Linked DNA regions of Homo sapiens. The protein of the gene in region 4 interacts with the protein of the main gene of each other region in a pairwise test. Each region holds a gene or a part of one and is shown on either strand. Other genes may lie near its edges. The genes, in order: SDF4, PCYT2, KCTD17, PRPF40A, DZIP1, DNAJA3 and RABGAP1L.

Region 1 (2,786 bases), on a different chromosome or scaffold from region 4:
CGGTCACATGGGCACCACAGGGCAGACTGAAGAGGACACACTCCCGGCTTCCCTGAGCTCCCACTGGGAGAGCCAGGACACAGCCTGGGCCCCCACACGCCACAGAGCAGGACCCCCACCAGCCGTCCTAACACACCCCATTCTCTGCCCCATCTGGGGCTAGGCCTGCCCCACTGCACCCAAAGACCTTGCCATCCTCCACCCAAAACCCCCAGGCGGCTCTGTCTCCTGCCTTAAATGTCCAAACCCCAAACTCAGTGGGCACGTCTGCTGCCCCCTGACCCCTACTCACAAACGCAGCGCTGCCCTCCGTCCTCCCAGAGCCCCTGCCCGTTGCCACCTGCCAGGAGAATCACCTCGAACCGGCCATGACCTCCAACCCTCCACGTGACCCAGCACCAGCCTCCAGCGCTCCAGTGGAAACTGTAACCACAAACCTAGCACGCTGCTGTTGTGTTTTGTTTCACGCCCAAAGAATGAAGCTGACCAAAAAAGGCAACTATATTTAAAGTAAATGTATGTGATTCTTGTCACAACAAATATTTGCATTTTCTCAGCGGCAGCTGCGGGACCTGGGTGGCTCCGACACGCCAGGCCCGGGAAGGACCCGGCACCCTCCCCTGAACTTCCTGGCTACTCATTTCCAGCGAAGTTTAATCTATTTTTAATAATCGTTCAGTTTTCAAGGAAATGGAGGAGCTGTTTTTTCCCACGGAGCGGCGGCCCTGGGAGGGGCCGGGCCCAGAGGTTCCGGCCGCGATGCCGTCAGCGCCTTCGGCAGAGTGACTGAAGCGAGATTTCGTTCTCAGAAGTGAGATGCCACGATTTCGAGGGACCAGGGAGGAGGCGGCGCCGCGGGGCCACAGCCCAGCCCCGCGCCCCGACCGCGTCACAGCCAAAGCCCCGCCGGGGTGCGCGCTGCAGAGGGGACACGCCGCTCATCAACTGGGGCAGCCGCGGTCGGTCGGCCGGTGGCGGGCGGCAGGGAAGAGGTGGGGTCCGGGACAGCCACGGAGCCCGGAGTCACCCGCGAGGCCGCCCCGGTGGTGCGTGGGGGGCGGCGCGGGGCGCGGCCGGGCGCTCAAAACTCCTCGTGCACGCTGCGCGCGTAGTCCACCAGCTTGCTGCCCGTGAAGAACTCGCTGTACTTGAGCACCTCCTCGGGCTCCAGGTGGTGGTTCTGGTTCTCGTCGGCGACGGCGATCATCTGCTTGGCCTCGTTCAGCGCGTTGTACTCGTTCATGGGGTCCATGTAGCTCTGCGGGCGAGCGGGGCACAGGTCAGCGTCGCCTTTCCCCCTCCGAGCTCCGCGGCCAGCCGCACGAAGTGGCTATTTAAGGTGCCTATTGGCTGCAGCGGGAGTGTGGGCACGTTCTGGAAGGTTCCCGAAGGGAGGCGGCACAAATGAAAACACAGGGCAGGGAGAAGCCGGGGGCCCCGGAAGGCCTGCCCGGGGCCAGCAGGGGTAACGGGGCACAGGGGCTACACAGGCCTGGACCCCAGTTCTGAAGGATCCCTAACCTGGGCCGGGCCCACTGGCTGTCGCCAGGAATCACAGGATTCTACATAAAAACAAGATGACTCACTCAGCAGTGGGAGAAAAACAAGCCTACACATGATACCAGTGAAAACGCTTCAGAGGAAGGTGGTAAATTCCAGCCATGTGGCACAGGCCGCCCCGCCCACCTGCACCTGCTGGGCCTTGGACCTGCCTCCATGCTGGGCCCAGCATGAGCTTCCCCTTGTGGTCCCGTTAAAAAGGGGCTGTGAGAACCCTGACGCCTCCGCAAGGGGCTGAGGATGGAGCCCGGCCAGGCTCGCCTGTCTCTGATCCGTCTGAACCTAAACGCCAACAACGGCCATGCAGCCTGGTGGACACCGCTGAGCAAACGCCCCAGTGACCAGCCCAGATGGAGTCTCAGGCCAGACACCAGCACAGCTTCCTGCCTCAGGCCCAGATCCACCAGCCCCTCCCGCCACAGCACCTCGCAGGGCCGGCTCCGGGACACGGCTGCGCCAGGGCTCACCTCCAGCTCCTCGGCGGTCACGATGCCGTCGTGGTTGGAGTCAATGAGCTCCTCAAACTCCTTTTTTCTGTCTTTCACCCAGTTGTCGTCAATGTCCTGGCCCTGCTGGTTCTCCACGGTGCCCACGGGCAGGGAGATGAACTCGGGCACAGAGAGCTGCTTGTCACCGTCCTGGTCTGCGAGACGGGAATGGGTCAGCCCACACCCAGGCTGGGGCTCCCGCAGGACCTGCCCCGACCTCCCGACGATGCCCGGCCCCTGCCAGTCGGTCCTGGGTCCTGGCGTGCCGGCCAGGCTGGACCCAGCCTCACCCAGGTCCCGGACGATCTCCTTCACCATGAACCTGAGCATTCCCCGGCTGTGCTCGGGGTGGAGGAACGACAGGAACTCCTCCTCCGTCAGCAGCAGGTCTGCAGGGGGGCTGTCCGCCTGGTACCAGCGGTCCTTCAGGTTCTCCAGGACTTCCTGTGCTGAGAGGGGCGCAGCCTGTGGGTATCGAGGCCGACAGACGCCAGCACGCAAATCCAGAAAGTTCCGAGAGGTGCTGCCTGAACTCGAGGGACACAGCCACCCGCGAGACCGGGGCCCCACCCTCCAGGATTCACACGTCCCCAGAACATGGCCCAGCCCCTAAGACACAGCCTGGACCCCCGCCAAGACATAACCCAGAGCCTCCCACAGGCCTGATCCCCAAAGGCATAGCTTGGACCCCTCCACACAGCCCGGACTCCCCAAGACAGCCTGGACCCCCCCCTGCCC
Region 2 (3,500 bases), on a different chromosome or scaffold from region 4:
GGCCTGGAGGCCCTTGCCATTTGGTGCTGCAGACCCATGGCCCCAGGGCTCCAAAGGCACAGCTTTGTGAGGTGGCAGCTGTTGAGCTCGGGGGACGTGGCTGGCACTGCTGGGGAGCTGGCACTATATCTGAATTACCAGACGTCAGGGACATGAGGCCAGTGGCTCCCGCATGAGATGCTGCAGCTGAGAATTCACTCAGCTGCAGATGCTCAGCGGGCAGGACGTGGGTGTGAGGGAGGCAGGAAGCAGAGCTGCTACCCCAGTGCCCATCCTCTCCCTGGCATTGCACACCTGGGCCCCAGCAAGGGTCCTTTTCTGTGCTCCTGCCACTCCCTTCAGTCAATAAAAGCGTGGAGGCCTTCCCCATGTTCCCAACCCAGGTTTTCTGTTATGGCCTTGCACAGGAAGGGGACCCTCAGTCTTTGGGGCAGCCGTGGGTTCTGCCACAGCAGGGCTGCTAGTGTCCCTAGTGGTGGTAGCAGGAGGCAGAGCCTTGCGAGTGTCCCAGGATGAGACCCCACTCCCACTGTGTCCCCCAGAGAATGCAAGCGCACGCAAGGGGTGTCCACCACAGACCTCGTGGGCCGCATGCTGCTGGTAACCAAAGCCCATCACAGCAGCCAGGTGAGTCGGCGGCGGAATCCCCGAGGCCCCTGGGTCGAGGTCTCCAGGGGAAAGGAGGGGCACCTCCCTGCCCTCTCAGGGTCCTCCTGCCCACTGCTCCCCATCCCCAGCCGGTTCTGGGGTGGCCACGCCGGGAGGGCAGGCCCCTCAGCCCTGCTCTGACCTTCTGTGCAGGAGATGTCCTCTGAGTACCGGGAGTATGCAGACAGTTTTGGCAAGGTGAGTGCGGCTGTGCAGGGAGAGCTGAGCACGCAGCTGCAGGGGGCTCCCCCGGCCACCTGTCCCAGCCATCCCTTGGGGAAAGGCCAGCCCAGAGCCTCACCCTCCTCCCTCTGTCCCTGGCACTGACCAGGCACTGACTGCCAGGTTTGGCTCACTGGTGGATGCTGGGAGGGAGGGCAGGCGGGTGGTGGCACCGGCTGGCCGGTCACGGCAGCCACTGCTTGGAGGAGCAAGGATTTGCCTGTGGACAGGTGGCCTCTAACCAAGTGGCCTGGCCCTCTCTCCCATTGTAGCCCCCTCACCCGATACCCGCCGGGGACATACTTTCCTCAGAAGGCTGCTCCCAGGTGACCAGACAGTGGTCTCAGGGTACCAGGTCCCTCCCAAGGGCTGTGTGCACCTGCCACAGGGCTCCTTGCCTCCTCCTGGTGGTCGCTTGCTGGGCTGAAGTGGTGTCTGCTGCGGTGCCTGCTGTGGTTGTGGGGTGGCGCCACAGTCCCACCTGCCACCTGGCCTGGCAGTGTGTCCCCTGCCCGAGATGACTGGCTGGAAATGGGATTGCTGGCAGGTGACAGCTGAGGGTTTGGTGACCTGGTGAGGGCAGCACCTGGGAGGCCTCCCCCGCCAACCTGCTCCCTCTCTTGGCTTGCAGTGCCCTGGTGGGCGGAACCCCTGGACCGGGGTATCCCAGTTCCTGCAGACATCTCAGAAGATCATCCAGTTTGCTTCTGGGAAGGAGCCCCAGCCAGGGGAGACAGTCATCTATGTGGCTGGTGCCTTCGACCTGTTCCGTATCCTCTGGGCCTCTGCTGCTCCCCTACATGTGCCACATGGGGTGGGACCCGGGGGCCTCACTTGACTCCTTGGGGCCCCCAGACTGGGCTGGCTGGTTTGCAGGGGAGCAGCTGTCAGCAGGGAGGATGGCGGGGAGGCCCTTGGGCATGAGCTGTCAGGGAGCTGCTCCCTGTCATCCCCATCCCGACTGCTTCTTAACCTGGGTGCAGACATCGGGCATGTGGACTTCCTGGAGAAGGTGCACAGGCTGGCAGAGAGGCCCTACATCATCGCGGGCTTACACTTTGACCAGGTCACTGCCTTCTTGCTCCCTGGGCCCCTGGGCAGCTGATGGGCCCTCGAGGGGCCCTAAGCGTTGCTGTTAGGTGCAGGTGGTCTCTGGGAAGGGGCCCCAGGTGAAGTCACAGGAGACCCTGGGGGGTGATCGTAGGCTTCTGGGGTCCAGGGCTGTCCTGTCTGGGGCATCCCCACAAGGGCGAGCAACCTCCCCGACTTCTTCCCATGAGGGACAGCCGGGAGGGGCACACCCTGTCCCCCCAAAAAGTCTCCGGGCTGAGCTAGCCGCACTCTGGCCGCAGGAGGTCAATCACTACAAGGGGAAGAACTACCCCATCATGAATCTGCATGAACGGACTCTGAGCGTGCTGGCCTGCCGGGTGAGTGGGGGCCAGGAGCCAGCCCAAGGATGGGGAGACATTCCCACAACATCCCCCCTACTAAGGGCCTCCCTGAGCCAGGGCAGGGGGGCTTGGGTCACTGGCAGAGCTGCACCCAGCACCCCGAGTTCTGTGGCACCTGCCCATACCTGTTTGTTGAGGCATGAGGAGGGGTGGTCAGGTCTCCAGATGCTGTTCCTTCTTGTCTCATGGAGGAGCCCCAGGGGTCCCCAGCCTGCCCAGCCCATCCCTGCTACTCACTGGCAGCCCCGCCCCATGTCTGAGCCGTCTCTCACCACCCTGTGGCCCTGGCTTACCAGTAGCAGGGACCGAGCAAGTCTTTCTGCCCCCACTGTCCCCACAGTACGTGTCAGAAGTGGTGATTGGAGCCCCGTACGCGGTCACAGCAGAGCTCCTAAGTCACTTCAAGGTGAGGCTCCGCATGGGCTCACCTCGTTCCCTCTGTTCACCTCTGTTCCTGCATGGGCTGGGAATGCAGGCTGGCTGTGGGCTCCTAGGCGGGGCCCAGGAGGTACCTGGGCTGAGGAAAGGGCAGGGTCAGCTCTCCCAACCCCCGGGGCCTGTGCTGGGCTGTGGGTGGCGACGGCCGCTGCCTCCCCGGGGAGGGCTCCTGACCCCACTCCTTCTCCAGGTGGACCTGGTGTGTCACGGCAAGACAGAAATTATCCCTGACAGGGATGGCTCCGACCCATACCAGGTGGGTCATGCTGGCCCTTGCTGGGCACAGGGGTTGCCATTGGCACCTCCCAGCCATTTAATGACTCACTGTGCCTGCCTGGGAAACGGGCATGGTGGCGCAGCTGCTCCGACTGCACCACTCCCATGGGACCCTGGGCGCTGGTCTCCCTCTGGGGCAGGGCATCAGATGGGTCTTGGGGAGGTCAGCAGGGACCTTCATCCCGCTCCTCCTCTCTGGACCCCCAGGAGCCCAAGAGAAGGGGCATCTTCCGTCAGATTGACAGTGGCAGCAACCTCACCACAGACCTCATCGTCCAGCGGATCATCACCAACAGGTGCAGTTGGGTGGGGGCACCTCGGAGCCGCCTCATGGGCGCTCTCCGCTAGACTTACCGTGCCCTCCCCCTCGGAGCCGCCTCATGGGCGCTCTCTGCTAGACTTACCCTGCCCTCTCAGGTTGGAGTATGAGGCGCGAAACCAGAAGAAGGAAGCCAAGGAGCT
Region 3 (3,500 bases), on a different chromosome or scaffold from region 4:
GAAACTTTGGTGGGTGGAGATAATCAGCCGAAAGCTCGGCTCAAGTCCAAGGATCAAGAGATGAGCACCCTCCTCGCTCCACCCCTCCCTCCAGCACCGCCAAGCTACAAACCAGGGATGGCAGCTCTGGGGGCGGGCGAGGGGCCGAGGAGAAGCCCTCACTGCAAGCTCAGCCTCAGGTCTGAGAGGGTGCGGACGGGAACCTGCAAGGAGGAAACGTGAGGAGGAGGCCGGGAGGAGAGGAGGGGGGGCAGGGCCTGCAGCCAGGGCCCAGTCTCAGAGGTGCCCGGCAGGGTTAGTGGGCACAGAGGAGGTGCAGCTGCGCCCCTCCTCCCCAGGCTGGGAGGCAGGAGGTACCAGAAGGGGCGCAGGAGGCGGCAGGCAGGACGCTCTGGGATGCAGGGCCAGGGGGCCTGGGTGGAGGGCACGGGAGGCTGGGACCAGGGCAGACCCGGGATGGAGGCGTGAGCAGGCAGAGAGAAAACCCGGACAGGGGCAGAGAGGGAAGAGGCAGGGTGCAGATGAGATCCAGGAGGAAGAAGAGGTGGATGAAGATGAGGCAGGACCTCCAGCGGGAAGCGGAGGAGGAGGCAGTGGTGGGAGGGAGAAAAGGTTAGCGGGATCCTGAGATGACTGGGCTGCAAAGAGAAAGTGAGAGAAGGGATGGTTATGCGGGTGAGGCGCCAGGCAAGTGGCTGAGCTAACCCTGGTGCCCCCCCAGCAGCCCCGGGGCCCCCGGTTCTGCAGCTGGCTCCAGCAAGGAGTGGGCGGGAGGCTCCGGCTTTGCTTAGCAATCATCCTCCTGGGGGTTGGCTGCACCTTTCTCCTGTGCATCTGCCTCCACCTGCACCTGTTCCACCTCCACCTCCTCCACCTCCTCCTCCTGCTGCTGCTGCTCCTCCAGCTGCTCCTCCGTGCTCTGTGAACCAGCCGGCGGACCCAGGGAAGAAAGAGTGGAGACACTAACAGAGGGGCCAGGGCCTGCTGGCTATCCCCAAAGACCCGGTCTCAGGCAAGGTGAAAGGGACCTCAGGAGAGGGGAGGGCTCCAGCCACAGAAGCTGGGGGCATCTTCTCCGGTCCCCTGGGCAGCTTGGGGAGGGCCTGGGGAAAGCAGCTGAGGATGGGATGCTGTGGGCATGCTCCGGGGTCAGCCTGGCTGCTGTTACATAGAGCGAGGCTGGAGGGAGGGGATGAAGCAGAACAGGGAGGGTGTGGGACTGGGGTATCCCTGAGGGGTGCCTGGGAAGGCCTTGTTTGGAAAGACTGCTCCTCAGTAGAAATGTGGCCAAGGAAGCCCCAGGGCAGACACCACCCAGATCTGGGATGCCAGCCAGTCTCTGACACCCCAGGTCCAGGGGCTTTGGCCCAAAGAGGCAGAAGGAGCAGTCTCGCTCTGCACCCTTGCAGGGCAGCGTCAGCCCTGGCAGTGGTGGGGGTGGGTGGGCAGGCAGGGTGCGTCACAGCAGGACAGGGAGGCAGACAGATAGACAGGAAGCCAGAGGTAAGCCTCCACTGTGTGGGGTTGGGCCCCAGGAGGAGCAGCCTGCCTTCTTCCCAGCCTGGTTCACGCCTGCTCTGTGGCTCTGCGAAGGCCCTTGGGACTTCCCACAGCACTGGGTCCAGGATGGCAGGACCCCCGCTCAGCCCTCTCCCCACAGTGGTACAGTGGATGCTGCCAGGGTGCTCTCAGGAGGCTGCCTCAACAGGCCAGGCGGACACACAGGACTGGCAGCCACCAGGCTGCCCCTATCCTGCAGAGCAGCCAAGGAGGGGGCCTGGGAAAGGGGCAGGATTTACAGCGGTGGCTTCCTCATCCTGGCTCAGGCCAGCTGGGGACATGCACCTGTCCCTGGGGAATAAACGGCCATTTGGGATCCCAGAAGTTCCAGGCTCCAAGGCACTACAAAGAGTATGTGATCCTCCCCTCTCACTTCAGAGAGTGCAGCAAAGGTGCTGGGAGAGGACAAGCCCTGTCCTAAGTCACACAGAGAGTGCCACACTGTGCCCTGACCCCTAGTCCATGCCACAGTGCCCAGTGGCCACTAAGCGGCCCCCTTCATGTAGCCTCTGAGTCCACGCCGGCTGCACCCTGGGGATGCTCTCATTTCACTGCTCCCAGCCTGGGCCTGGGTAACGGCAGGTGGCATGGGATGGATGGCGGTGGCTGTGAGCATGGGGTTGTGCATGGGCGGTGGCGGGAGAGAGGTGGAGGGATGGTGCAGGCGCAGGGGCGGGACAGGCGGGGAGGGTGGAGGGAGACAGGAGACTTCTCCGGACACAGGCTGAGGCGGGTGGGCTCACCTTGGTTTTGCGGCTGGACTCTGAGCTCAGCCCGTTTGGGGTGCTGTGGAGCTCCTTGGACACCACACACAGGAACTCTGCCTGGTCCTCGCTGCCGTAGTTGTAGGAGGAGCCGATGTTCACCAGCTAGAGGGGCGGAGCATGGGGAGAAAAATGCAGGTTGGTGTTGGGGGCCGTGGGGCAGGATACGACAGACCTCGGCACTCAAATCAAGATACCAGCTCAGGTCCTAATCTTGCGGCTTGTCGGGCCCACTCCTGGGTTTGTAGAGGGCACCTCTGGGCAGGAAGGTGGAGTCTTCCCCCTTGCAACCTGTGCCTGTGGTCTGTGCCCCAGGACCAGCCCCTCCGCCTGGCTTGGCTGGCCCGATCCCTGGTGGAGGGTGGCAGCATTACCGCTGTCCCCACCACCACCTCCAGCCTAGCCCCAGAGCCAGGGGGCCCTTTTCTAAATGCAGGCGGAGGCCTCTAAAGGGCGGCTGTCCCCCATTCCAGATGTGGCTGACACAGCCCCAGGACAAGGTTGCAGGGTGGCATTGGCAAGGTGGAGCCCCACAGAATATTCCCTTCACTCCTGGAAGCAGAGGTGGGACGACAGGTGGTCCACTCCTGAGACCAAAGGGCAAATGACCAATGGTCCCTGGCCTGCTTGCTCAGCCTCTGAGAGCCTGTGCAATTGCCAAAGACACCCAGAGGCTCTCAGAGTGGCCCTGCCCTTGTTCCAGGGTCCCTAGAATAACCACGCCCACAGAGCCCTTCTGGCTAAGAAATAAGAAAGTTCTTCCAGGTGATGAGTCTCATTCAGCTCTCAGGGACCCTGAAGAGAATCTCAGGCCTGCTGAAGGCCTCACAGCTAGGAAGGGGTGGAGCAGGGAATGGCATCGGGGATCCCAAGTCCTCTCTGAGTGTTGCAGACTTCAATATGGATTTCTAATGATTTGCATGACACTAATGCCAACATAGGGAGTCCTACGGAGGGCTGTAAGCTTTACTGATGGCCCTTCTAATCTCACAAGAGTCCTACAGAGGAGGTACTGTTAGCCCACTTCACCGATGAGGGAACTGGGTCCCGCACAGGAGATGTAACTTGCCCAAGGTGGCAGGCATGTCTGTGGCAAGGCCTAGAGGTGAAGCCAGGCCTCTGGCTCTGCACTAGGCCCATTCTTCCATCCCTCCAGGCCATCCTGGGGGCTCCGAC
Region 4 (3,500 bases):
GAGTGGCTGGGATTACAGGTGCCCGCCACCACTCCCTGATAATTTTTTTGTATTTTTAGTAGAGACAGGATTTCGCCATGTTGGCCAGGCTGGTTTCAAACTCCTGACCTCAGGTGATCAGCACACACCTTGGCCTCCCAAAGTGCTTGTTTTACAGGCGTGAGCCACCGTGCCCAGTGAACCTTACCTATTAAAGTGACCTGAGATGTTATTGTTTCATTGCTTATTTTAACAAAAACTTACCATTTATTCCATTACTTTCCAGAAACTTTCTTTTCTACACAGCTAATGTGGTATAATACCTCAAATGTGCCTAAAAGCTGTCTTCTATCTGCTTTACAAGAAAAATTTCAAGTTTTCTTTATTAGTCAATCAATCCATGTGGCTGCCAAACTGCTCAATTTCTAAAACTTTCTAAAAATACAAAACAGTCTTCACATACAAATCTTTATATTCCCATGGAAACTTAATAGTTTCTTTTACTTAAAAGCAGTTTTTATAGGAAAAAAACCATTCTCTAACCATCCAGGTAAGTACATTTGTATAAAAGCAGTGAATATTAAGCAACATACTTTCATCATTCTAAGTTCTTCAATTTGTTTATATTTTATATATTTTGTATATGAGAATTCTAAAATTACCTCAAGCACATGCATAAAATCTTTAAATATTCGTTTTCTTTCAGATTCTAGAGTTATGTCCTCAAATGCTGGCTCTTTTACAAATCTCTCACGGATCTGAAAAATTCAGATACAAAATAAATATATGAATACCAAGAAAAGTACAACGATACATCTAAAATAAATCATAACAGCAAGTGAAAACTGTGATGAATCAGTCCCCTTAAAGTCCATTATTTCCTCCCTTCAAAAGTCCAAACCATTCTTTACAAATATTCCTAAACAGAGTCAACAGCTGATTTAATGCTTTTATTATATTCTAAATATATTTAATATATTCTACAAATAAATTTAGCTTATTTTTGTGGCTATAAAATGAAAAATAAAAATATTTTAAATTTCTCAACTGTAAAGAAAAGAATTCCATTAGAAAAAAATAACAAGTATACATACATCTTCCCAGACAGCATCCAATTCTATCGGAGGAGCAGCTTGTTTTAACATACTCTTAAATGCAGATTCTTTTCGTTTCATCTTCCGAGCCTCTTCTTTTTCTCTTTCACGTTCACGGGCTTCTGCCTTTTCTAGTAACTATTAAGAAAATCATATTTAATCAGTTATAATAGTATCATAACTATTAGCTGAAATAATTTATTGTTAATTTAGGAATCACGCATTGTTTAAAACGAGCTTGTCCAACCTGTGGCCCAGGACCGCTTTGAATGTGGCCCAACACAAATTTGTAAACTTTCTTAAAACACTATAAGGATTTTTTGCAATTTTTTTTTTAAGCTCATCAGCTATCGTTAGTGTACTTTATGTGTGGCCCAAGGCCTGATTTATAATGGCCATTTTATGTATAATACCAGTTAATTTGAGCAAAGGAAGTTTAATATCAATCCATCATCTAAATAAAGTTTTTTGTTTTACCTTACCTGAAAGACTGGCTACCACTCTGTAAAATTCTATTCATATTCCCTTATTCCAACACTCTGCAACTTAGCTGCTTTTATCTGAATAAATTAAAAACTATACTACTAAACTAGTTACTTACAACAGAAAACATAACTTACACTATTGAAAGCCAATTTGATATTTCCAGCATCTAATGTAGTTGATCTTTTAGTTGAACTGATTATCGCCACAAAATCTTCAAAAGTAGTGTTTACTTCAACTACAAATCCTTTATCCTAAAAAAAAGAAATCTTAACATTAATAATGCATAAATCAAAGGAATACAGTACTAACTTTTAAGATATACTATTGGTTAAAAGGTAAGAATAAATATATTTACCTTTAGAATGTCTTTTATTATCTTCTTCTCGTCATGATAACGTGCTTTAAGATCCTCAACATAAAACTTGAAAAGATCAAGTGCAGTTGATCCTAATGAAAAAACTAAAGAAGTCAAAAGCTAGCTCTAACCAAAGAGCTGCAATTACTTTGTTGTTTAAAAAACAAAAATAAAGCACCCTTTCCCCCAACACAATCACCTTTGCATTTGGCCCATTTCAACTACTACCATAACGGTAAATTAGGAAAGAAAATAATCTTACCAGGCTGACCAAGCATATTAGTGAATCTAATATCAGAACTAATAGTTGGATACAATTCCATCCAAGATGACATAGAATGCAGTTGTCCATGTTCATGTAATTCATCTAAAAATATCTAGGGAGAAAAATTATATTTGGAAAGTCATCTCGAGTACATGAGAAATAAGCGTCTAACATGAAAACACACAAAAACTTTGACATAGTTAAAACTCTTCTACCAATGTTATCCCAAACCTGTTTGGGCACAAAGAATATTTGCTATTTGGGCAAAGTAACAACTGCCTCTAGGCAAAAAAATATTTTGTCCTTTAGAGAAAATAACTTTTGAAACTGCACATTATCTTCCTAAGGTTCTATTTCCTACCCTTTAAGATAGAACCTAATTTTTAGCTTTAAAAAAAAAAAGGTAAAAGTTAACTTAAATTACTGGATATCTACCTCAAATGATGAGGCTAAAGAATGTATATGCATGTTTCCTTAAATATATACTTTCTGTCTTTAAAAATAGTGCCTAATGTGTTCTAGGTATTTTTATTTACTTTTAAAAAACAAGGGGCCTTAAGAGGAGGATGTATAATTTTCCCAAAGTAGTTTGGAGACCTAGGATTCAAACCCATATCTAGTTTCAATTTCCACACTTCCTGCTTCCAACCCAATCCTCAGGGAGTTTAATCCTATACACCAGGGGATCCCAACCCCCAGCCACGGAACCGGAACCAAGCCACACAGCAAGAAGTGAGTGGTGGAACAAGCATTACCGCCCCAGCTCCACCTCCTGTCAGATCAGTGGCGGCATCAGATTCTCATAGGACTGCAAACCGTATTGTGAACTGAGCATGCCAGGAATCTAGGTTGTGTGGTCCTTATGAGAATCTAATGCCTGATGATACCAACTCCCCACCCCACCCCACCAAGAAAAACTGTCTTCCACTAAACCGGTCCCTGGTGCCAAAAAGGTTGGGGACCGCTGCTATACACAAATGTGCCTAAAAGAAACTGTAACCCTATATTCTGTTCCCACAATTCCTATACCTGCACTGTTCAATAAGGTAGCCACTGACCAAACGTAGCTTCTCGGTACATGAAATGTAGCTAGTCTGAGTTGTGATGTGCTGTTAAGTACAAAATACACAATGATCTTGAAGATTTAATACCACAAATATTAGCAATTTTTAAAAATATTGATGTGTTAAAATAATATCTGGTTATATTGGGTTAAATTACTAAAATAAATAGGAAATTAAAATCGCATTTGTGGCATTCACATTTTTATTGGATAGAGCTGTCCCAAAGTAACATCAGGCACTTACAACTGCACTCACTC
Region 5 (3,500 bases), on a different chromosome or scaffold from region 4:
AAAAGGAGGTGCTAGTTTGCCAACCTAAGAGGCCAAAAGGAAACACCAAGGTTTCTGAGGCCATGGGTTCTGAACTGACAACACAACTCACAGGACAGAAACAGAAGAAATTTAGGTGGGACCTTAGGATTTTAGAGCCACATCCTTCAGTTCATGAGCGACCAGCTGTAGTCTACAGCCTGCTGGAAGCAACTGTCAACAGTTCAGTTCAGGACACAGCTCCTGGTTTCCTACCATATACCAGGCACCTCACTGGATGGCCACTGGCAGGCTAAAAGAAGATAAAAAGACAGGCCCTGCTCTGCACGGGAGGCGAGTAGACACAGCCATGGAGAATCCACATATAATGTGTATGTCATCAGATCCCACTTAGGGACTACAGAAATGCTATAGCCTAGAGGCTCAGGAGAACTTTCTGAAAGCGGTACCTGCCCCCCTGGCTGAATACTAAAGAATGAGTAAAAGACAGGTCCCGAAAACTGGGAGCTGCAGGACAGGCAGGAAAGCAGCCAGAACCGAGGAAAAAGACAGAAGGGCATGTTCTGAGAGGCATGGGCTGCTGGGCCGCTGGAGTGCCAGGAAAGCAAAGAACAGAGAAAGATGGCCCAGGGCCCAGAATCCGAAGGACCCTGCGTGCTGGTAGGAAGTCCGGAATAAGGGTCACTGAAGGACTTCAGACAGGACAGGGACATGGTCAGCCTGACTGCAGTGGAGCAGGTAGATTTGGGTCAGGGAGGAAACATGTGAGCACTGAAGCAAGAAGCAGTGGTCCCTGTTTCCAAAGTCTACTTACCTTTTTTAGAATGACCCAGGCTTTTAAAAAAGAATCCTGAATTCATAAGCTCTCATCTCTATTTGCTTCCTAGTTTAAAAAAATTGTTCCCCTAAACCGCTGTCACTTCCAAATGAAAGTGATTATGTTTGATAAATGTAACAGATCATCAGCTGACCAGTTAGCAGTGTGTGTGTGTGTGTGTGTGTGTGTGTGTGTGTGTGTGTGTGTGTGTGTATTTATTTATTTATTTTTTGAGACTGAGTATCACTCTTGTTGCCCAGACTGGAGTGCAATGGCGTGATCTCAGCTCACTGCAACCTCTGCCTCTTGGGTTCAAGCAATTCTCCTGCCTCAGCCCTCCGAGAAGCTGGGATTACAGGCATCTGCTACCACGCCCAGTTAATTGAGCCGAGGTGGGCGGATCACCTGAGGTCAGGAGTTCAAGATCAGCCTGGCCAATATGGTGAAACCCCGTTTCTACTAAAAATACAGTTAGCAGTATATTTAAACTCTAAAATTAAATCTGGTGCTTCAATATGCCCTTCTACACCTTTTGAAATTGAGAGCTACATCTGAAAGATGAAAAATGAATAGCTAGGTTATACTAACCAATTCAAATTGACTTTATGGAGAGAAGAAACAAAACAGTTCTGCCAACTGTTGTGTATGCTATTTGCCAACAGCAAGCATGTAACAAACACCTCTTATGATTTAGGCATGCTGTAGGAGAAAAATAACAGCTAGTCACCTTCAGGGTTACTAAAAAAGACAAACACTTTTTCTGCAGATGACACTCACTGTAAATTACTTCACTAAGAAAAAGGAAGGCATCCACTGCAGCTGTCACCCACTTGCACGTACCTGACTATCAAGAAGCTGCATGACATTATGGAAATCCTGGGGATATGGAGAACGGTCTTCTTTAAACTCGTGTGCATCTTTTAATGTGCCTATGTTGGACTTGATCTGCATATTGGACTTCTGGATTTCTGACAGTTGCTATAAGATAAAATTCAAGCTCAGTACTACAGTTAGACTTTCATAAGATGGAAACAGAGAATAAAATCAGGGAGCACATAGCTGTGTTTTAAATCTGACTGCCCTCTTGGACGCTCCTGGACGCTCTTGGACGCTTCTCCTGCTTCTGCTTCCCTGTGGTTTTACTGGTTTGTTTCTACTGCTTGCTGGTCTTCCTATCAGAATATGTACAGGGTGAAAAAAGGGGAAGGAAAATCTAACTTTCTAATCTTAAACGAGTCTAATTTTTTTTTTTTTTTTGGAGACAGGGTCTCATTCTGTTGCCCAGGCTAGAGTGCAGTGATATGATCATGGCTCACTGCAGCCTCAACCCCCTGGGTTCAAGCAATCCTTCCACCTCAGCCTCCTAGGTAGCTGGGACTACAGGCGTGCACCACCACACCCAGATAATTTTTGTATTTTTTTTGTAGAGACAGGGTTTTGCCATGTTGCCCAGGCTGGTCTCAAACTCCTGGGCTCACACAACAATCTGCCTACCTCAGCCTCCCAAAGTGCTGGGATTACAGGTGTGAGCCACCAGGCCCAGCTGGGGCTTAAAATTTTTTATGGGCACTTAATAGGTACCAGAAACAGAAGAACTGAATGCACCTGGTTCTTAAGCTAGTTTAGTGAGAGGCCAACACTGTCCAGGGACCACATCAGTAAATCCACTGGGGACATAACGTTTTTAATTTTACCCTTTTCTTTTCATATTATTCCCAATGTTACTCATGGCAAAAACCCTCAGAAAACCACAGAAGGTAACACATTAACTTCAAAAACAAAAGTATGGGGGAGCGCACGTCTCCTCTCCTCAGTGTAGGCTGCTCATAGTGACTTCATTTCAGAAAGGACAGCAGGGAAAGGAGGAAAAAAGAGAAAATCTTCAGTGGAGAAACCTGACAAACACTACCACAGCCAGGTAGCCAAGGTCAATAGCAACAGTTATAAGTCATGCAGATTCGTAACACAAAGTCTCAGACAAAACATTCAACTCTACTGCTCCCACACAAAAATGCCACAGACAGAGCGTAAATTACCAAACATGGCTGTGTTTCAATAAAACTTCACTCATGACACTGAAATGTGAACTTTAATGAAATTTTCCTGTGTCACAAAATAGTCTTCTTTTTTTCCAATGTTTTAAAAATTTAAAAACTGGCTGGGCACAGTGGCCCACAAATGTAATCCCAGCACTTTGGGAGGCCCAAGTGGGAGGATCACTTGAGGCCAGGAGTTCGACACCATCCTGGCCAACATGGTGAAACCGTCTCTACTAAAAATACAAAAATTAGCTGGGTGTGGTGGCATGTGCCTGTAACGCCAGCTACTCAGGAGGCTGAAGCACGAGAATCACTTGAACCCAGGAGGCAGAGGTTGCAGTGAGCTGAGATTGTGCCACTACACTCCAGACTGGGCAACAGAGAGAGACTCTGTCTTGAAAAAAATAAAAAGTAAAAATGTAAAAACTATTCTTATGTCAGAGGCCATTCAAAAACAGGTGGTATGCTGGACTTGGTTCATGGGCCATTCGCCAAATCTCACGCTAGAGTTTAAAGAGTTTTAGGAAAGCCCTCAGGTGAATTCCAAAAATCTCTATTTTCGTTTATAAAACTTGTTGGCCCCTAGAGGGAGCTCAAGGACCTTCGCTCAGCTCCCTTCCTTTCTCCGTTTTCCCCAAAGAAGACTCAGGTCAAGTCTAACCAGG
Region 6 (3,500 bases), on a different chromosome or scaffold from region 4:
CTGGATGTTTAACCTTTTGAGAAGCTGCCAGCCTTTTTCAAAGCAGCTGCACCATTTTACATTCCCACCAGCAGCATATGAGGGCCATGATTTCTCCACATCCCAGTGAACACTTAACTATTATCGTCTGTCTTTTTAATTACGACCCTAGTGAATAAGAAATGCTATCTCGTTAGAGTTTCGATTTGCTTTTTCCCTGATGACTAATGATGGTGAGCATCTTTCTTGTGCATGTTGGCTATTAGTATGTCTTTGGAGAAACGTGTGTTTGGATCCATTGCCCACTTTTAACTGGGTTGTCTTTTTTTTTTAATTGGGTTGTAATGGAATGAACAGAGGCATGGGGACAGGAAGCAGAGATCCTGGCCTGTGAAGAGCGAATGGCCTGTCTCTTCCTGAGCTCAAGAGTCAGGTGCCTGATCCAAGAGTGGGAAAAGATTGAAAAGATGGAGGCTGGGTTGGACTCACATGACAGTTGATTTGAGGCCCTTAGTAAGTCCCAGAGACATAATTTAAGAGAAAGACTTAATTTAGAGAACCATTCAGATTTTTAGGCACGGAAGTAAAAAGATCAGGTAAAGCTGTAGCAATTACTGTATTTTATTTACCTACAAAAATAATTGAAACAGCAGAGACGTCTATTTATTCAGTCATTTTCTTCCCTTTTTAAAAATTTTTTCTTTTTTCAGACAGAGTCTCGCCGTGTGGCTCAGGCTGGAGTGCAGTGGTGCAGTCTTGGCTCACTGCAACCTCTGTCTCCTGGGCTCAAGCAATTCTCCTGCCTCAGCCTCCCGAGTACCTGTGTTTATAGGCGCGTGTGACCATACCTGGCTAATTTTTGTATTTTTAGTAGAGATGGGGTTTCGCCATGTTGGCCAGGCTGTTCTCAAACTCCTGACCTCTGGTGATCCACCCAGCTCAGCATCTCAAAGTGCTGGGATAACAGGCATGAGCCACTGCGCCCGGCCCCCTTTTTAAAAATTTGTTTTTCTTTTTTGTTCATTTACCTATTCTAAGCCATGCTGGGTGCTAAGGGCAAAGATACATCAGAATCAGTTCCTGCCCTCAAGTTAAGAGATGGATACATTAAAACAGATCATTATTATTATTATTTTGTGGGGCGGACAGAATCTCACTCCGTCACCTAGGCTGGAGTGCAGTGCCTCGATCTCTGCTCACTGCAACCTCCACCTCCCAGGTTCAAGTGATTCTCGTGCTTCAGCCTCCTGAGTAGCTGGGACCACAGGCATGTGCCACCACGCCTGACTAATTTTTTCTATTTTTGGTGGAGAGGGGTTTCGCTGTGTTGCCCAGGCTGGTGTTGAACTCCTGAGCTTAAGTGATCTGCCTGCCTTCACTTCCCAAAGTGTTGGGATTACAGGCGTGAGCCACTGCACCCAGCCGAGAGACAACTTTTATAAAGGGAACATAATTATGACTGGTATTTGGGGTTCTGTTGTATCGGGGGTTTTGTTGTTTCTGGTATTTGGGGTTCACATTGTATCTGGAGTAATTTATCATGTTTTTCCCTTAGCTTGCCAAGAAGTATCACCCTGACACAAATAAGGATGATCCCAAAGCCAAGGAGAAGTTCTCCCAGCTGGCAGAAGCCTATGAGGTAATATGACTTCGGTGCATGCGGTCACTGCTGTTCAGCTATGTGTATGAATCAAAGGTTGCATTGCTACCTGGGACAGCCTGGTGTGTCATACAGTCCAGTGTGAAGGCCATGTCCCTGCGCCAAGTAATCTTGTTAAGAAAAATAAAAAAAAAGAGATTCCAGGCCAAGCATGGTGGCTCACTCCTGTAGTCCTAGCACTTTGGGAAGCTGAGGCAGGAGGATCACTTGACCTCAGGAGTTGGCTTGACCCTAGGAGTTTGAGACCAGCTTGGGCAATGTAGTAAGACCACGTCTCTACAAAAAAAAAAAAAAAAATCACCAGGCGTGGTGGTGGCGCACCTGTAAACCCAGCTACTTGGGAGGCTGAGTCAGGTTCATCACTTGAGGGGCTCAAAGCTGCAGTGACCCATGATGCCATGATTGTGCCATAGAACTATGGTCTGGGCAACAGAAAAAGACCTTCTCTCAAAAAATAAAAAATTAAAAAAAAAACAAAACAACAACATTCTAAGACTAACTTGGAATCTCAATGAAGAACAGGATCCAGGCCAGGCGTGGTGGCTCATGCCTGTAATCCCAACACTTTGGGAGGCCGAGGCAGGTGGATCACCAGGTCAGGAGATCGAGACCATCCCGGCTAACACGGTGAAACCCCGTCTCTACTAAAAATAAAAAAAAATTAGCCGGGCATGGCGGCATGCGCCTGTAGTCCCAGGTGCTGGGGAGGCTGAGGCAGGAGAATGGCGTGAACCCGGGAGGCGGAGCTTGCAGTGAGCTGAGATTGCGCCACTGCACTCCAGCCTGGGCGACAGAGCAAGACCCCGTCTCAAAAAAAAAAAAAAGAACAGGATCCAATAATCTGTACTAATAAAGTTCCCCAGGTAATTTACACTTGTAGCTGGATTTGGGAATTCACAGTTGGATTAATTAATTCAGCCCTTATTCAATGACATCCCCTTCCTCCACCTCAGGGCATCACTGCTTTTTGGGGATAGAGGTTATTGTAAAAGTAGAAGCCCATTATTGTCCTATAAGAATGTCAATGTAATCAGAGGACAAAGCATACATCTCTGAAAACAGCTATTGACCCCACTTCCATAGTTTTCTGAAAGTAGACCTTTTTCCCAGATTTTTTGACAATCTTTTCTTTTTTTTTTTTTTTTTTTGCTTAAGAGACAGGGTCCCTCTATGTTGCCCAGGCTGGTCTTGAACTCCTGAGCTGAAGAGATCCTCCTGCCTCAGCCTCTCAAATTGCTAGGATTATAGGTGCAAGGCACCAGACCTGCCCGACTTTGGCCATCCTAAAGGGGTTCAGTATATATAGGAGCTCATATATCTATAAGAGTAGACAGCCACGTAGAAGAACAGGCTCAACTCAGTAAATCTTTTTTGAGTAAATATCTGTCAACTAGATCTAATGAAAAGTTTATTTACTAGTGTAATTTTAAAATAATATGTTCTTATTAGGTAACTCAAACTAATTGATAACATAACTAAACAGTCTTGGAACCTGCTTCTATGGAAGATAAGATTAATTTTTTTTTTTTTTTCAAGAGTTGAGGTCTCAGCCAGGTGCAGTGGCTTACGTCTATAATCCCTATAATCCCAGCACTTTGGGAGGCCAAGACAGGCAGATCAGGAGGTCAGGAGTTTGAGACCAGCCTGGCCAAGAGACCAGCCTGAGCAATATGGTGAAACCCCATCTCTACTAAAAATACAAAAATTAGCCAGGTGTGGTGGTGGGTGCCTGTAATCCCAGCTATTCAGGAGGCTGAGGCAGGAGAATTGCTTGAACCCGGGAGGCATCAGTGAGCCGAAGATTGCGCCATTGTACTCCAGCCTGGGCAACAGAGCGAGACTCCCAATCAAAAAAAAAAAA
Region 7 (3,500 bases), on a different chromosome or scaffold from region 4:
TTAGTTCTCTGTTAAAGGAAAGTCCAAATAACCAAGGCCACCACTAGAAGAAACCCTCAATAGTGTTTTTAAATATTATATAACATTCAGATTCATCAACTACTTCTCAAATTCAATAACAATTTTATTACATTCTTACTAAATACAGTCTTACTAAATACACCTGCCAATTCAAGAGAAACTAAAATTTGTTAGACATTATACTTGACCTGGAGGACCTTAGAGAAAGGAGTAAGGAGTAATAACACAAGACAGAATATAACATTCAACTGGATCTTAGTGCAGTGGAAAGATCCAAGACTTTTCATCTCTCAGGTTCTAAACTTCTTCCATAAAAATCAAACTTTATTTGATCACACATTCTCTGAGTAATGTGTAATTTCAAGGACATAATTTAGAAATTTTAAAAATCAGGGCAACATTTTTGTGTGGCATATGAGATAATGTTAAATTTAAAATGTATACTTTGAATCAGAATATTATAATATACTATTATATAGTTTAATAGAATAAATTATAAATAAATTTTCTTTTGTGGACCAAATATATATTTTATTGCAAAATAAAACTAAACTAGGTGTTACATTAAAAACATAAAAACTATTTTTATAACTTGATATGCAAAATTCTTATATTTTGTTCTTCAAAACTGTCAACTGGCTTATTTTTATCATTTTTGTGGCTTCCTTCTGAACAAGTATAAGAAAGAAGTTACAGGTATTTGCAAGCCTGTCTCCAGAAATAACAAATTGTGGGTCTAAAAATTATTTACTGCTAATAAATGAAAAGTTAAATTTTATATAATCTTTTTTTCTGTTTAGCCTTTATTTTTAGACAGCTTAATATGTGATCAATGTATGTGATTTATATAAATGGTGAATACTCTCTTTAAGGAAATGAAAGAATAATTATCATTTTAATGCCCTTCATTAACATATTATATTTTCATATCAGTATTCACGAATGCTTCCTGTCAGTAACCAAAAGTCTACTGTGGGTATAAACTAAATAATATAAAAATTAATGATAAAACAAACTGATCCATTATATTCTAAATATGAATTAATGGTTTAATGACAGTAAAGCACTTAGGGTAGGCATATAACTCGGCAGGTAAAACTTTAAATTTAGTTTAAAAGTAGATAATGAAGGGGCAAAAAACAGGCAATTAACAGCTATCTGGATGAAGTAGGAATGAAAAAACACAATGGAACAACGAAAAATGTGACTATTCAACATTTATACATTCTGTTCAATACTAGACATGATAAATAATATGAAAAGTTAAAAAACTAAGAAAAAACTATTTGCTACAACTGAAATATTTAATATATATTACAAGCATCCCGAAGGCCAAAAGACTGGAGCCAATAATTAATAAATGAAAAACTATAAGTAAACTATAATGCAAAAATAGTTAATAATTTAAAAATATTCAAAATTCTAAAATATTTCCTTTTCATCATTTTCTTTAATATTTCTCCATCACTAGTCTCCACAAATGAAATAACTCTATAGTGGTATATGAAAAACAAAGCCCAAATGCTTTCTCTATAATCTAATAAAATTAATTCAGGCCAGGTGCAGTGGCTCACATCTGTAATCCCAGTGCTTTGGAAGGCAAGAAGATCAGTTGAGGTCAAAGGTTCAAGACAAGCCTGGGCAACAAAGCATGACCCCATCGCTACAAAAATAAAATTTAAAAATTAGCCATGCATGGCAGCACACACCTGTAGTTCTATTTAATAGCTACTCAGGAGGCTGAGGTGGGAGGATTGCTTGAGCATGACAGTTTGAGGTTACAGTGAGCTATAATGCCCCTATACTCTACCCTGGGCAACAGAGTGAGACCCTGTCTCTTAAAATAATAACAATAATAATAATTCACATATCTTTTGGGGAGGATTTTTTTAAATAGTGGAGATTTCCCCCATAGAAGCATAAAGAATAAAAATGAACCTCAAATTCTCAATGAAAGAATAAGTCCACTTTGAGTTCCAAATTTTTTTTAAAACATGACAAGCAACATTGTTCATAATATAAAATGTAAAGCAAACAATAAGGGATCTTTTAAGAAAAGTCACCTTTTGGGGTTTCCTCGTTAAGTGCCAGAAATACTGGTGCATTGGGGTTCCACATGCCAGTGATGACATAAGCTCTCCCATCATAGCTCTTTCCCATGGATTCCTATAAAAATTCAAACAGTAATTACTGATAAAAGACATCAAAAAAATCACTACTTTAAATTACATCTTACTTTAAGCAATACAAATTATTAAAATTTAGATTAACAGTCAAGCAGGAGCTTTATATTCACTGTAAATTCTTTTCATCCTACAAAAGCATTTATTTAAATATTAAATTCTTCTACAGCTTTCTTCAAGCACAGTTTCTATTTAAAGACATGTACCCTTGGATAAAAGGAGGCATATACTTACATGCTGAATCAAAAAAACATAATATTGTTACAAAGTTGTATTTAACTTGATCTTGACACCAATTGTCCAAATCTCATATACACATAAGAATGTATATGGTTTCTATTAAAACAATAATATAGAATTAGCTGAAGACAGTTAAACTGAACTAGTAGCTAATCACAGTAGGGAAAGTTAATATTTTTCTTCTAATATTCTAATTTTTAATGAATTCTTAAAATATTAATTTAGTTTGTAGCAATTAATACCTTTAAAATTAACACTTGTCTATTTTCTATATGTCAGATATTTATATACTTTCTTACAATCATAAATTAGTATTAGGAGACTAATTTTTGGTTTGTAAGCAGCATCCAAGTGTATTAACTCTCTCCCTCTACTGTTACACTTACTCCCTCTTTCTTCCCTTCTCTCCTTCCTCCTCTTCTCCATTCTTTAAGACTTTACCAAGCCAGCTCTTGACTCTCACTAAAAAAGCCAGCAACTCCTATGGCGAAAGCTAGGCTACTTATAGCTTGTGTATATGTGTGTGGAGAGAGGAGGGGTAGAGTTTGTCCCATGAAAGAACAACACACAGCATACAAGTATTTCCATATGCAAATGAACAGTATCTACAATATTTCAGTTTTTGTAGCGATTTCCTCACATTATGAATAGAGACTGTTAAAAGGGTCAGACTAAAACAAAGAGAAAAACTTTTCTTTTTTCATTATTACCCATTCACAGATGTTTCTCTGAACCCCCTATAAAATTGTGTCAGTCATTTGGTAATTACTATGTATATTTTTCTAGTGTATTAGTAATACTTCACTAATCAGATTGTGTAGCTTGAGCGCAGGGACCATGCATTCCAGAGATGAAATACACTCAAGGTCACTTGTAAACGAAACCCTCTCAGCAGCCCCAACACACTCATATGATAATGGTCTCTTTCTCTCCTCTACACACACACACACACACACACACACACACACAGAGTCACCTGTTGCTTAATGATAGGGTTATGTTCTAAGTTATGTGTCATTAAGTGATTTCTTTATGCAAATAGAATACACCGTACTT

The links.
Region 1: the proteins of PRPF40A (region 4) and SDF4 interact in binary tests that used the Homo sapiens proteins (3 or more experiments, as listed by UniProt).
Region 2: the proteins of PRPF40A (region 4) and PCYT2 interact in binary tests that used the Homo sapiens proteins (3 or more experiments, as listed by UniProt).
Region 3: the proteins of PRPF40A (region 4) and KCTD17 interact in binary tests that used the Homo sapiens proteins (3 or more experiments, as listed by UniProt).
Region 5: the proteins of PRPF40A (region 4) and DZIP1 interact in binary tests that used the Homo sapiens proteins (3 or more experiments, as listed by UniProt).
Region 6: the proteins of PRPF40A (region 4) and DNAJA3 interact in binary tests that used the Homo sapiens proteins (3 or more experiments, as listed by UniProt).
Region 7: the proteins of PRPF40A (region 4) and RABGAP1L interact in binary tests that used the Homo sapiens proteins (3 or more experiments, as listed by UniProt).

What each region holds. Positions count from the first base shown.
Region 1 is NC_000001.11:1,216,431-1,219,216, forward strand, and holds the end of SDF4 (45 kDa calcium-binding protein isoform 2 precursor), read right to left. Parts: exon of another isoform or gene 2,504-2,786; intron 2,498-2,503; coding exon 2,339-2,497; intron 2,204-2,338; coding exon 2,028-2,203; intron 1,375-2,027; coding exon of another isoform or gene 1,259-1,374; coding exon 1,082-1,258; 3' UTR 501-1,081; downstream 1-500. UniProt on the Homo sapiens protein: May regulate calcium-dependent activities in the endoplasmic reticulum lumen or post-ER compartment. Isoform 5 may be involved in the exocytosis of zymogens by pancreatic acini.
Region 2 is NC_000017.11:81,904,900-81,908,399, reverse strand, and holds part of PCYT2 (ethanolamine-phosphate cytidylyltransferase), read left to right. Parts: intron 1-542; coding exon 543-627; intron 628-801; coding exon 802-846; intron 847-1,142; coding exon of another isoform or gene 1,143-1,196; intron 1,197-1,501; coding exon 1,502-1,640; intron 1,641-1,853; coding exon 1,854-1,936; intron 1,937-2,222; coding exon 2,223-2,300; intron 2,301-2,664; coding exon 2,665-2,730; intron 2,731-2,952; coding exon 2,953-3,018; intron 3,019-3,245; coding exon 3,246-3,334; intron 3,335-3,455; coding exon 3,456-3,500. UniProt on the Homo sapiens protein: Ethanolamine-phosphate cytidylyltransferase that catalyzes the second step in the synthesis of phosphatidylethanolamine (PE) from ethanolamine via the CDP-ethanolamine pathway.
Region 3 is NC_000022.11:37,058,242-37,061,741, reverse strand, and holds part of KCTD17 (BTB/POZ domain-containing protein KCTD17), read right to left. Parts: intron 2,430-3,500; coding exon 2,304-2,429; intron 920-2,303; coding exon 820-919; intron 639-819; coding exon 567-638; coding exon of another isoform or gene 204-566; coding exon 113-203; coding exon of another isoform or gene 1-112. UniProt on the Homo sapiens protein: Substrate-adapter for CUL3-RING ubiquitin ligase complexes which mediates the ubiquitination and subsequent proteasomal degradation of TCHP, a protein involved in ciliogenesis down-regulation.
Region 4 is NC_000002.12:152,661,962-152,665,461, forward strand, and holds part of PRPF40A (pre-mRNA-processing factor 40 homolog A), read right to left. Parts: intron 2,292-3,500; coding exon 2,177-2,291; intron 2,019-2,176; coding exon of another isoform or gene 2,007-2,018; coding exon 1,915-2,006; intron 1,811-1,914; coding exon 1,694-1,810; intron 1,212-1,693; coding exon 1,074-1,211; intron 738-1,073; coding exon 642-737; intron 1-641.
Region 5 is NC_000013.11:95,620,707-95,624,206, forward strand, and holds part of DZIP1 (cilium assembly protein DZIP1), read right to left. Parts: intron 1,775-3,500; coding exon 1,637-1,774; intron 1-1,636. UniProt on the Homo sapiens protein: Molecular adapter that recruits protein complexes required for cilium assembly and function to the cilium basal body.
Region 6 is NC_000016.10:4,435,868-4,439,367, forward strand, and holds part of DNAJA3 (dnaJ homolog subfamily A member 3, mitochondrial), read left to right. Parts: intron 1-1,534; coding exon 1,535-1,618; intron 1,619-3,500. UniProt on the Homo sapiens protein: Modulates apoptotic signal transduction or effector structures within the mitochondrial matrix. Affect cytochrome C release from the mitochondria and caspase 3 activation, but not caspase 8 activation.
Region 7 is NC_000001.11:174,274,520-174,278,019, reverse strand, and holds part of RABGAP1L (rab GTPase-activating protein 1-like), read right to left. Parts: intron 2,921-3,500; exon of another isoform or gene 2,831-2,920; intron 2,188-2,830; coding exon 2,085-2,187; intron 1-2,084. UniProt on the Homo sapiens protein: GTP-hydrolysis activating protein (GAP) for small GTPase RAB22A, converting active RAB22A-GTP to the inactive form RAB22A-GDP. Plays a role in endocytosis and intracellular protein transport.